Regions from separate parts of the Homo sapiens genome. Here region 2 is linked to region 1. The links come from fine-mapping of genetic effects on gene expression. Tissue or cell type: cerebellar hemisphere. Region 1 holds a variant in brackets; the other region holds the start of a gene. All regions are shown on one strand. Distances are from middle to middle.

Region 1 (5,115 bases):
AATGATTGCCTTTGAAGGCAGAGAACAAACTTTACTCATCTTTATATATCCAAAGTATCCAACCTGCAGCCTTATCCCAAGTAGGTGCTTAATAACTTAGTGAGGTTGGTTCACACTTAACACATCTGATGAAGCAATGATACATTCAACATGTGTATATCGAAACGCCTATTATGTGCCAGAGAGTTATCAAACAAGCCTTGTCTCTGTCCTTCAGAAGCTGACAGTCTCACAGGAAAGACAGGCAATCAGCAAATAATTACAATGCAGGGGGACAGGTATATTGACTGATATGTCAATGTATGTTTCACCCCTTGATACTACCACTATGGTACAAAACCTATCATTTAATTTTCAGCAGATTAGATTTTTATTTTCAGGGAAAGGGGAGTTTATTTCTCCTATAGAGGATAGGGACAGGGTATGATATTGATGACATTGTTTTTGGTATGATTTCTGGGTTAATGAACATGGATTTGAAATAGCCTACTATTGACTGGAAGCCTTACTGATAACATAAACAGTTGATTAACATGTATTTTGTATGTGGTATATATTATATACTGTATTCTTACAAATAAGCTAGAGAAAATAAAATGTTACTAAGAATACCATAAGATAGAGAAAACACATTTAATATACATTTACAGTACATTATTGTACTGTATTTATTAATACCATAAGTTTATGTTATCTGTTTATAAGATGAATTATCTGTCTGAAGCAGTGGGCAAACACAGCGGCAGACCTCAATCTTATATCAAGCAATTCAACTGTTTTGTAATGTCATGACCTCTCTGTGCTTCTTGGGGATACTTCCAGTATCACTAGTGGCACTTTGTATGGGTCCCATGGTATTATTCAAGATTTACGGTATGCACTCAACAAAATGAAAAATATGTGAGAACCACAAAAGATCACTTTTTTACTGTGATACACAATTTACTGGAGAGGTAAACTGCTCACGTAGAGATGATTAGCATCACATGATGTTTTAAGTGGACACACGCAGCACTTGTGCTCACCATGACAGCAACAGGGAATGGCATTGAAATTATTACAGTAGTATAGGATGTGCTACAATTAATTGTATGTAGTTATAATTTAATACTGTATCTTTTCATTTGCTTACATTTCTCTTGACTAAAAATGACACCGTGTACAGTCTATGTAAGTTTTGATAAATTTTAATTTTTTATAATATATGTATATTTTATAGTAATACATGACAAAATATACTAGTATCTACATATATTTTATGCATTCATACCATGCCTAACTTTTTCTTAATTTTAAAAATATTTCTAGGCTACATAATTCATCTGCAAGTTTCTTCAAATTGTTGCAAACCTCCAAAAAATTGTCCAATATATTTATTGGAAAAAATTTGTGTATAAGTGGACCCGTGCAGTTCAAACCCATATTGTTCAGGGATCAGCTGCCCCTTACCTACAGAGAAGCAAAAATAAGAATTATATCCAACGTTTCCTCAGAAACCCGGCACGCAAGAGTAAAATAAATTGTTGAGTGTTGAGAGAAAAAACTGCCAAACTAGAATTCTTTACCCTGAAAAATTATCATCTTTTAAAAGTGAAAGAGAAATAAAGCCTCTCTCAGAGAAACAAAAACTAAGGGAATCTGTTGTCAGCAGACATGTCTTGCAAGAAATGTTAAAAATAAGTTCTTCGGAGAGAAGGAAAATAATATAAGTCAGAAACTTGGACCTACGTGAAGAAAAGAAGAACTTCAGAGAAGAATTAAGTGAAAGGAAAACAAACATTTTATTTTCTTATTCTTTTTTTCTTCTTCTTCCTTTTTTTTTTTTTTTTTTTTTTTTTTGAGATGGAGTCTCGCTCTGTCGCCAGGCTGGAGTGCCCTGGTGCGATCTCGGCTCACTGCAACCTCCGCCTCCTGGATTCAAGCGATTCTCCCGCCTCAGCCTCTTGAGTAGCTGAGACTACAGGCGTTCGCCACCATGCTCAGCTAATCTGTTTTTGTATTTTTAGTAGAGACAGGGTTTCACCATGTTGGCCAGGATGGTCTCCATCTTTTGACCTCGTGTTCCGCCTGCCTCGGCCTCCCAAATGCTGGGATTACAGGCGTGAGCCAACTTGTCCAGCCTATTTTTCTTATTCTTAATTGATCTAACAGTCAGTTCAAAATAATAACAGCAACAATGTGTTCAACTATATGCCAATATATAAGTAAAATGACAGCAGTGGGTCGGGCGCGGTGGCTCACGCCTGTAATCCCAGCACTTTGGGAAGCCGAGGCGGGCGGATCACGAGGTCAGGAGATCGAGACCATCCTGGCTAACATGGTGAAACCCCATTTCTACTAAAAATACAAAAAATTAGCCGGGTGTGGTGGTGGGCACCTGTACTCCCAGCTACTCGGGAAGCTGAGGCAGGAGAATGGCATGAACCCGGGAGGCTGAGCTTGCAGTGAGCTGAGATTGCACCACTGCACTCCAGCCTGGGCTACAGAGCAAGATTCCATCTCAAAAAAAAAAAAAAAAAAAAAAGACAGCCGTGATACAAGATGCGGGAGGGAGGAATTACAAGTATTTTGTTATTATAAGAGATTAAAATTCAAAAATTAGCCAGGCATGGTGATGCATGCCTGCAGTCCCAGGTACTTGGG[A/C]GGCTGAGGCAGGAGGATTGATTGAGCCTGGGAGGTTGGTGGAGGTTATAGTGAGCCATGGTTGCACCACTGAACTCCAGCCTGGGTGACAGAACGAGACCCTTTCTCAAAAACAAACAAAAATAGTTATTCACACTATCCATGAATTGGTACAATGTTATCTGATAAAAGTATAATGTATATGCTAAGAAGGGGCAAATAGAATTATATAAAATGCTCAATTAAAGCCATAAGAGGTAGAAAAGAGAGGAAGATAAAAATAGAAACAAAGAACAAGAGAAATTAATAGAAAATGGTAATAAATATGGTAGATATAATCACTTTAAATGTCAATGGTCTACCTACACTAATTAAAAGACAAAGATCCTCAGAGTGGATAGAAAAAAGGACCCAACTTCATGTTGCCTATAAGAAACCCACTTAAAATATAAAGAAACATGTAGATTAGAAGTAAATAGAGAAAGATAAACCAGGCTAACACTAATCAAAAGAAGGAGGAGTTGCTATATTAACTTCAGAAGGAGCAGGCTTCAGAGCAACGAAAGATATTAGGGATAAAAAGGGGCACTGCATAATGATAAAAGGATCAATACATCACAAAGACATAACGATCTTTAATGTGTATGTGTCTAACAACCAAATGTCAAATACCTGAGGCAAAAACTGGTAGAAATGCAAGAGAAATAGATGAGTCTGCTATTGTAGTTGGAAACCTTAACACCTATCTATCAGAAGTGGACAAATCCAGCAGGCAGAAAATTAGTAAGGGTATAGTTGAACTCAACATCACCATCAATCAACGGGATATAATTGACATCTATAGACTACAGTCATGCGTCACGTAACAATGGGAATATGTTCTGAGAAACGCATCGTCAGGCAATTTCATCATTGTGCAAACATCATAGAGTATACTTATGCAAACATAGATGGTACAGCCTACTATGCCCCTATGTTATAATGGTGTAGCCTATTGCTCCTGGGCTACAAATCCATAGAGCATATTACTGTACAGAACACTGTAGGCAACTGTAAGACAATGATAAGTATTTGTGTGTCTAAACATACCTAAACATAGAAAAGTAATGTGTTATGCTATGATATTACAACATCACTAAGTGATAGGAATTTTTCAGCTCCATTATAATCTGATGGGACCACTGTCATACATGTGGTCCTTTGTTGACTGAAACGTCATTATGAGGGGAATGACAGTACTTCTGTGGAACATAAAACACACCCTAACAAATTTAAAAAATGAGAAATCATACAACTTCTACTCTCAGATCACAATGGAATTAAACTAAAATGAATAACAGAAAGATGTCTGAAATCCAATGTACTTGGAGATTAAACAACATACTTCCAAATAATATATGGGTCAAAGAAGAAATCTTAAGAGAAATTTTAAAACATTTTGAACTAAATGAAAATTAAAATAAAACATCAAAATGTGTAATATGCAGCAAAAGCAGTGCTTAAAAGAAAATTTATTGAATTGGACACATATATTAGAAAATAAGAAATATATAATAAAGGACTGTTATATGAAATATACGAAGAACTCTTCAAACTCAACAATAGAAAAATAACAACCTTATTAAAAAGTGGATAAAAACCTGAACAGACCCCTAATCAAAGAAGATAGATATATATGTAAATAGTCTGTTCCATATATATATGGAAAGTGAACATATATAAAGATGTTCATCATATTTCATAAGAGAGTTACAAATTAAAACAAGTATTAGAATGGCCAAAATACAAAACACTGACAACTCCAAATGCTGGTAAGGATGTGGAACAACAGGACAACATTTATTGCTGGTAGGAATGCAAATATTGGAAGACAGTTTGGCAGTTTCTTACAAAACTACACATATTCTTACCTAAAGATCCAACAATCACACTCCTCAGTGTTTATCCAACGGAATTGGCAACTCCACACAAAAACCAGCACATGGATGTTTATAGCAGCTTTGTTCGTAATTGCCAAAAATTGGAAATAACCAAAATGTTTTTAGTAGGTGAATGGATATAAACTGTGGTATATCCTTATCAAGAAATATTATTCAGAGCTAAATAAGTTATCAAGTTATCAAGCCATGAAACATTGAGGCAACTTGAATGCACGCTACTAAGTGAAAGAAACCAATCTGAAAAGGCTACATACTATATAATTCCAACTATATGACATTCCTGAAAAGGCAAAACTATGGGGACAGTTAAAAGATCAGTGGTTGCCGGGGTTGAGGAGGGAGGGCAATGGAAGATTTTTAGGGCAATGAAATGATTCTGAATGATACTACAGCAGTAGACACTGATAAACATCATCATACATTTAACAAAACCCATAGAAACATAACACCAAGAGTGAATCCTAACGTAAACTATGAGCTTTGGGTGCTAATGATGCATCAGTGTAGGTTCATTGATTGTAATGAATGTACCACTGTGGTAGGGGATGTTATT
Region 2 (4,446 bases), 360 kb after region 1:
ACTCTGTCACCCAGGCTGGAGTGCAGTGACTCAAATCTTGCTCACTGCAACCTCTGCCTCGCAGGTTCAAGCAATTTTCATGCCTTGGGCTACCAAGTAGCTGGGACCACAGGTACATGCCACCAAGCTTTGCTAATTTTTGTATTTTTAGTAGAGATGGGGTTTTACCATGTTGGTCAGGCTAGACTTGAATTTCTGGCCTCAAGTGATCCTCCCGCCTTGGCCTTCCAAAGTGCTGGGTTTACAGGCATCAGCCACCATACCTGGCCTAACTTGGTTCCTTGACCACCTTTTTTAGACAGCCTATTGTGCTACTCCCTAGTCTCACCTTCACCTCGCCTGTCCTCACTTCATTCCCTGAGATTACAGACAAGAAAGGCCATTTCATATTGGCATAATATTGTGTCTATTTGCAAATTCATTTCAGCATTCCTACTCCCTATATATGTACAGTTCTTGAATACCTCTTTTGAATCAGTTGAAACTGGTTTTTACTGTAATCTCTCATTAATTACAGAATGCTGTAATTCTCTCATTAATTAACTAGTTCAATACATTTTTTGACATGTGTTCATTGTACACTTGTAGAAGAATCATGATTTTACCTTTTCTGAAAATTATTCTTTAATAATGGATGTTTTCTCAATAATGTGTGAATAAAGGCAACTTCAGGAAATGATGCAATTTTTGCTAATCTGCAATTCACAGTCTAAGTAAAAGTTGTGTTCTCTCTGCAAATGCTACTTCAAGAACTAACTAATAAGTTCAAGGACCTGTCTTTCTGTGTCCCAGTGGAAGAAACAATTTCAGTCAGATGTGAAGGACAAAGTAGACACAGAGAAGTGAATTGAAAAACTCTTCCAATTTTTAGTCTGCCTGGGAGACTCAGAATATAGAGTTGTCTCAAGCCTTAGATAGAAAAGACAGATATGAAGAGTCTTCTTCCCTTCCCCTCTCTTCCTCCACACCCTCCATTTTCAAGGGGTTAAGATTTGAAGAATCATATTCCTATCAATTAGCAACTTTATCATCTCTGATATTTGAACCACAGCAGGTGAGAAGAGAGTTGGAAAAGGAACTAAATTATCACAGGCGCTAAATACTTTTTAAAAGGCATTGCTCTGGGCCAGGTGTGGTGGTTCATGCTTGTAATCCCAGCACTTTGGGAGGCCAAGTTGGCTGGATGACTTGAGGTCAGGAGTTCAAGACCAGCCTGGCCAACATGGTGAAAACCCGTCTCTACTAAAAATACAAACATTAGCCAGGCATGGTGGTGGGCGCTTGTAATACCAGCTACTCGGGAGGCTGAGGCAGGAGAATCGCTTGAACCCGGGAGGCAGAGGTTGCAGTGAGCCGGGCGACAGAGCGAGACTCCATGTAAAAAACAAAACAAAACAAAACAAACAAACAAAAACATTGCTCTGAATCCTGTAAGCATCGGTCATTGTCATCATTATCTTTATCCTAATTTATAATCACTCATAAAACTTGTCAGAAGCTTTCAGCTTTCAGGCTGTTATGTAGAAGGATGGGCTTTGCAGCAGGTAAGTGAGGGATCCAACCCTCTCCATCTAACTCTGTCACAGGCTTTGTCACATAATCTCTGGAGCTTTGTGTCTTATCTGTAAAAACAAAGCCATGTTTGTTGAGGATATTAACTGAGATACATTTAAGATAACATAGAAGCTCTGGAAACTATTAGCTTTATAAAAGTGTCAGTTGCTGGACTTGTCTATCAGTTTCCTTATCTCTAATGGAAATTATAATGGAACCTACCTCATAGGGTTCTTCTGAACTCCAAATGTATTTAATAAATGTAAGAACACTTCCTGACACGGTTAGTGCTTAACAAATGTGAACTATTGATATTATTAATGTATGCTCCACGAGGGGGCGTGTCGGATTTGAAACACCTTTTCATCTCCCATAGAGCCTAGCACCTTGCACCCAGCAGGCGCTCACTGCATCTTTGCGGGATGATTTCAATGTTCTGACCTCAGCCTGCGCTGCAGGGAACGTCCGAGTGTAACGCGTTAGTTCGTAGGCCGGAACCCAAAGCTCCGGACGCTGCGACGCCGGAGCCTCTAGGCGCCGGGACACGGGCGCCGGAAGTGGCGAAGGCGGGGTCGGCGCTGCCGGGTGAAATCGTAGGACAGTGAAGATGCTGCTGGAATTGTCCGAGGAGCATAAGGAACACCTGGCCTTCCTGCCTCAAGTGGACAGCGCGGGTCAGCGGGCGTGGGGGCGGTGTTCTGTGGGCTGGGGAGGAGGTCAAAGGCAGCGCCTGGCACTCAACAGCCTTCTGACTTTCATTGCAGTGGTCGCCGAGTTTGGGCGGATTGCTGTGGAATTCCTGAGACGCGGCGCAAACCCAAAAATCTACGAAGGCGCCGCCAGTAAGAAGGGAAAGGGGAAGGCTCCGCAGGCTTCTAGGGCGGTTGCGAGCCATTCCCTGTCTCCCGGGAGAGAAACGGATTATTGCGAGTCCTAGGGTCTTGTTCCGATTGTAGTAGAATAAAACCAGCAGAGCTCTTCAGTCAGGGTGCAAATCCTGCCCGTCCCTTAAGTAGCTGTGAGATTGTTAAAGCTTCTATTAAATCAGTTTTCTCATGGTAAAATGTACATAATACCACCTTACTTTCAGAAATACTGAAAAGTGTTTTGTATAAATATACCAAAGTCTGTGGAATAGCTGGGTCAACTGTAAATTGCAAGTATTTGGTTATCATTATTAGTTGTTCAGATATCCGCTTTTGCTAAAAAAAAAAAAAAAAGTGTTGTTTTACCCCTGGGTAAGAGGCAGTCTCTGGGATTAAGTCAATCCCTGTCGAGTTCCTCTTCTGCCAGACTTGAAGGAGCTACGTATTCAAGAGAAGGGCTACGCACCTGATACTAGTCTCCACAGTTCTGCATTTTGTTAAGGTTACTTGGTGGGAAATACCAAAGGCATTTGGCTGGGAGTGGAATGACAAGGAGCAGGAGCCTCTGGCCAACTTACTGTTTTTCATGCAGTGTTTGAAAACATGTAATAATGAATAGTGTTTATTTTTAAATACAAATATGAACAAGATAAATACTACAGTAGTAATTTATTTGCTCGTTTTTACTTTTCTTTCTCAGGAAAACTCAATGTGAGTAGTGACACTGTCCAGCATGGTGTGGAAGGATTAACGTATCTCCTCACTGAGAGCTCAAAGCTCATGGTAAGGGATTTTCTGGACTGTTTTGTGTTGGCTGGATTCTTAAGAACGGTCTGGTGTACTCTACATCATAGTCCTGGCAGGTACCTGTGTGTTTTAATAATGTTGTTAATGGTTTATAATTGATTTTTTGAAGACATACCTAAAAAATAAAAATCATATCATCTGCTGATATGAATACCTCTTGCTAGTATAAATAGCTAGTATAGAAGTACCTCTAATTCTGCATGTTGTTAAACCATATATGTATCTTAAGAAGATACATAAGAGGAGGGAGACTGTATCAGTATTTTGTTTGCGTATCAGCAGTATCTGGCTTGATGAAGGACAGGAAGGGAAACTGGGCATCTTAACAATTTTTTCCATTTTATACTTTAGTAAAGTACTTTTATGTATTGGTAACACAGATTTTGGAATGGTGGTCAGTGGTTAAGGAATGCTGTTTCTTTTACTAGACAGAATAAATTAGAGGATATCATATTCTTTTGTGTATTTCAATTATTTTAGCTAGACAAAGATAAATTTTGATGTTCTTTTAAACTCAATTCACTTAGATTTCTGAACTGGATTTCCAAGACTCTGTTTTTGTTCTGGGATTCTCTGAAGAATTAAACAAATTGTTGCTTCAGCTTTATCTGGACAACAGAAAAGAGATCAGAACGATTCTGAGTGAATTGGCACCAAGCCTTCCCAGTTATCATAACCTTGAATGGCGACTAGATGTACAGGTATAGCATTTTTAAAATTAACTTAACATAGAATATAAGAATTATTTTAGGTTTGTGTCCTGTTTATTGTATTCTTTACCACCTTAACTAAGATGCGGTTTGAAACTTTGTTTTTTTAATGTTCATTTTTAAGCCATTTCACAAATCATTCATTTTCTTTTATTTTCAGTGTGTTCAAATCAGTTTAATTTGCAAAGTTTGTAAGAAATTGGTTATTTTCGAAAAGGAGATGGTTATATAGATTTTTTAGGTTGGTGCCTAGATGTTTAAAAACTTTTCTGTTTAAATTTAACAGATGTAGAAAAGTGCACAGGTCAATGTACCGCTCAATGAATTATCACATGGTGCATTTAACTGTGACTCACACCCCAGAAGCATCCTCCTTGCCTCCTAATTACTGCCCCTTCACTCCTTTCTAAAGGTAACCAGCATCCTGACTTTTAACACAAATTACATTTACCTGTCTTTTAACTTTGTATATATGGAATGACTCAGTAAATATTCTTTTGTACCTGGCT

The links. PIP is the estimated chance that this variant, and not a neighbour inherited with it, causes the effect.
Region 2: COMMD2 starts here. The variant in region 1 is fine-mapped to the expression of COMMD2 in cerebellar hemisphere (GTEx, PIP 0.96).

Annotation. Positions count from the first base shown.
Region 1 is chr3:150,108,719-150,113,833 of GRCh38, reverse strand. The region is part of intron 1 of LOC105374313 (a long non-coding RNA gene); the gene reads right to left. Among named protein-coding and RNA genes, the nearest start is that of LINC01998, 29 kb to the right of the region's middle. The variant A/C (reference allele first, on the strand shown) is at 2,644.
Region 2 is chr3:149,750,160-149,754,605 of GRCh38, reverse strand. It overlaps COMMD2 (COMM domain containing 2), which reads left to right and starts at 2,117. Exons shown (of 5, transcript NM_016094.4): 1 at 2,117-2,228; 2 at 2,319-2,396; 3 at 3,121-3,203; 4 at 3,755-3,928. The coding sequence starts at 2,162. RefSeq lists a silencer at 1,892-1,961.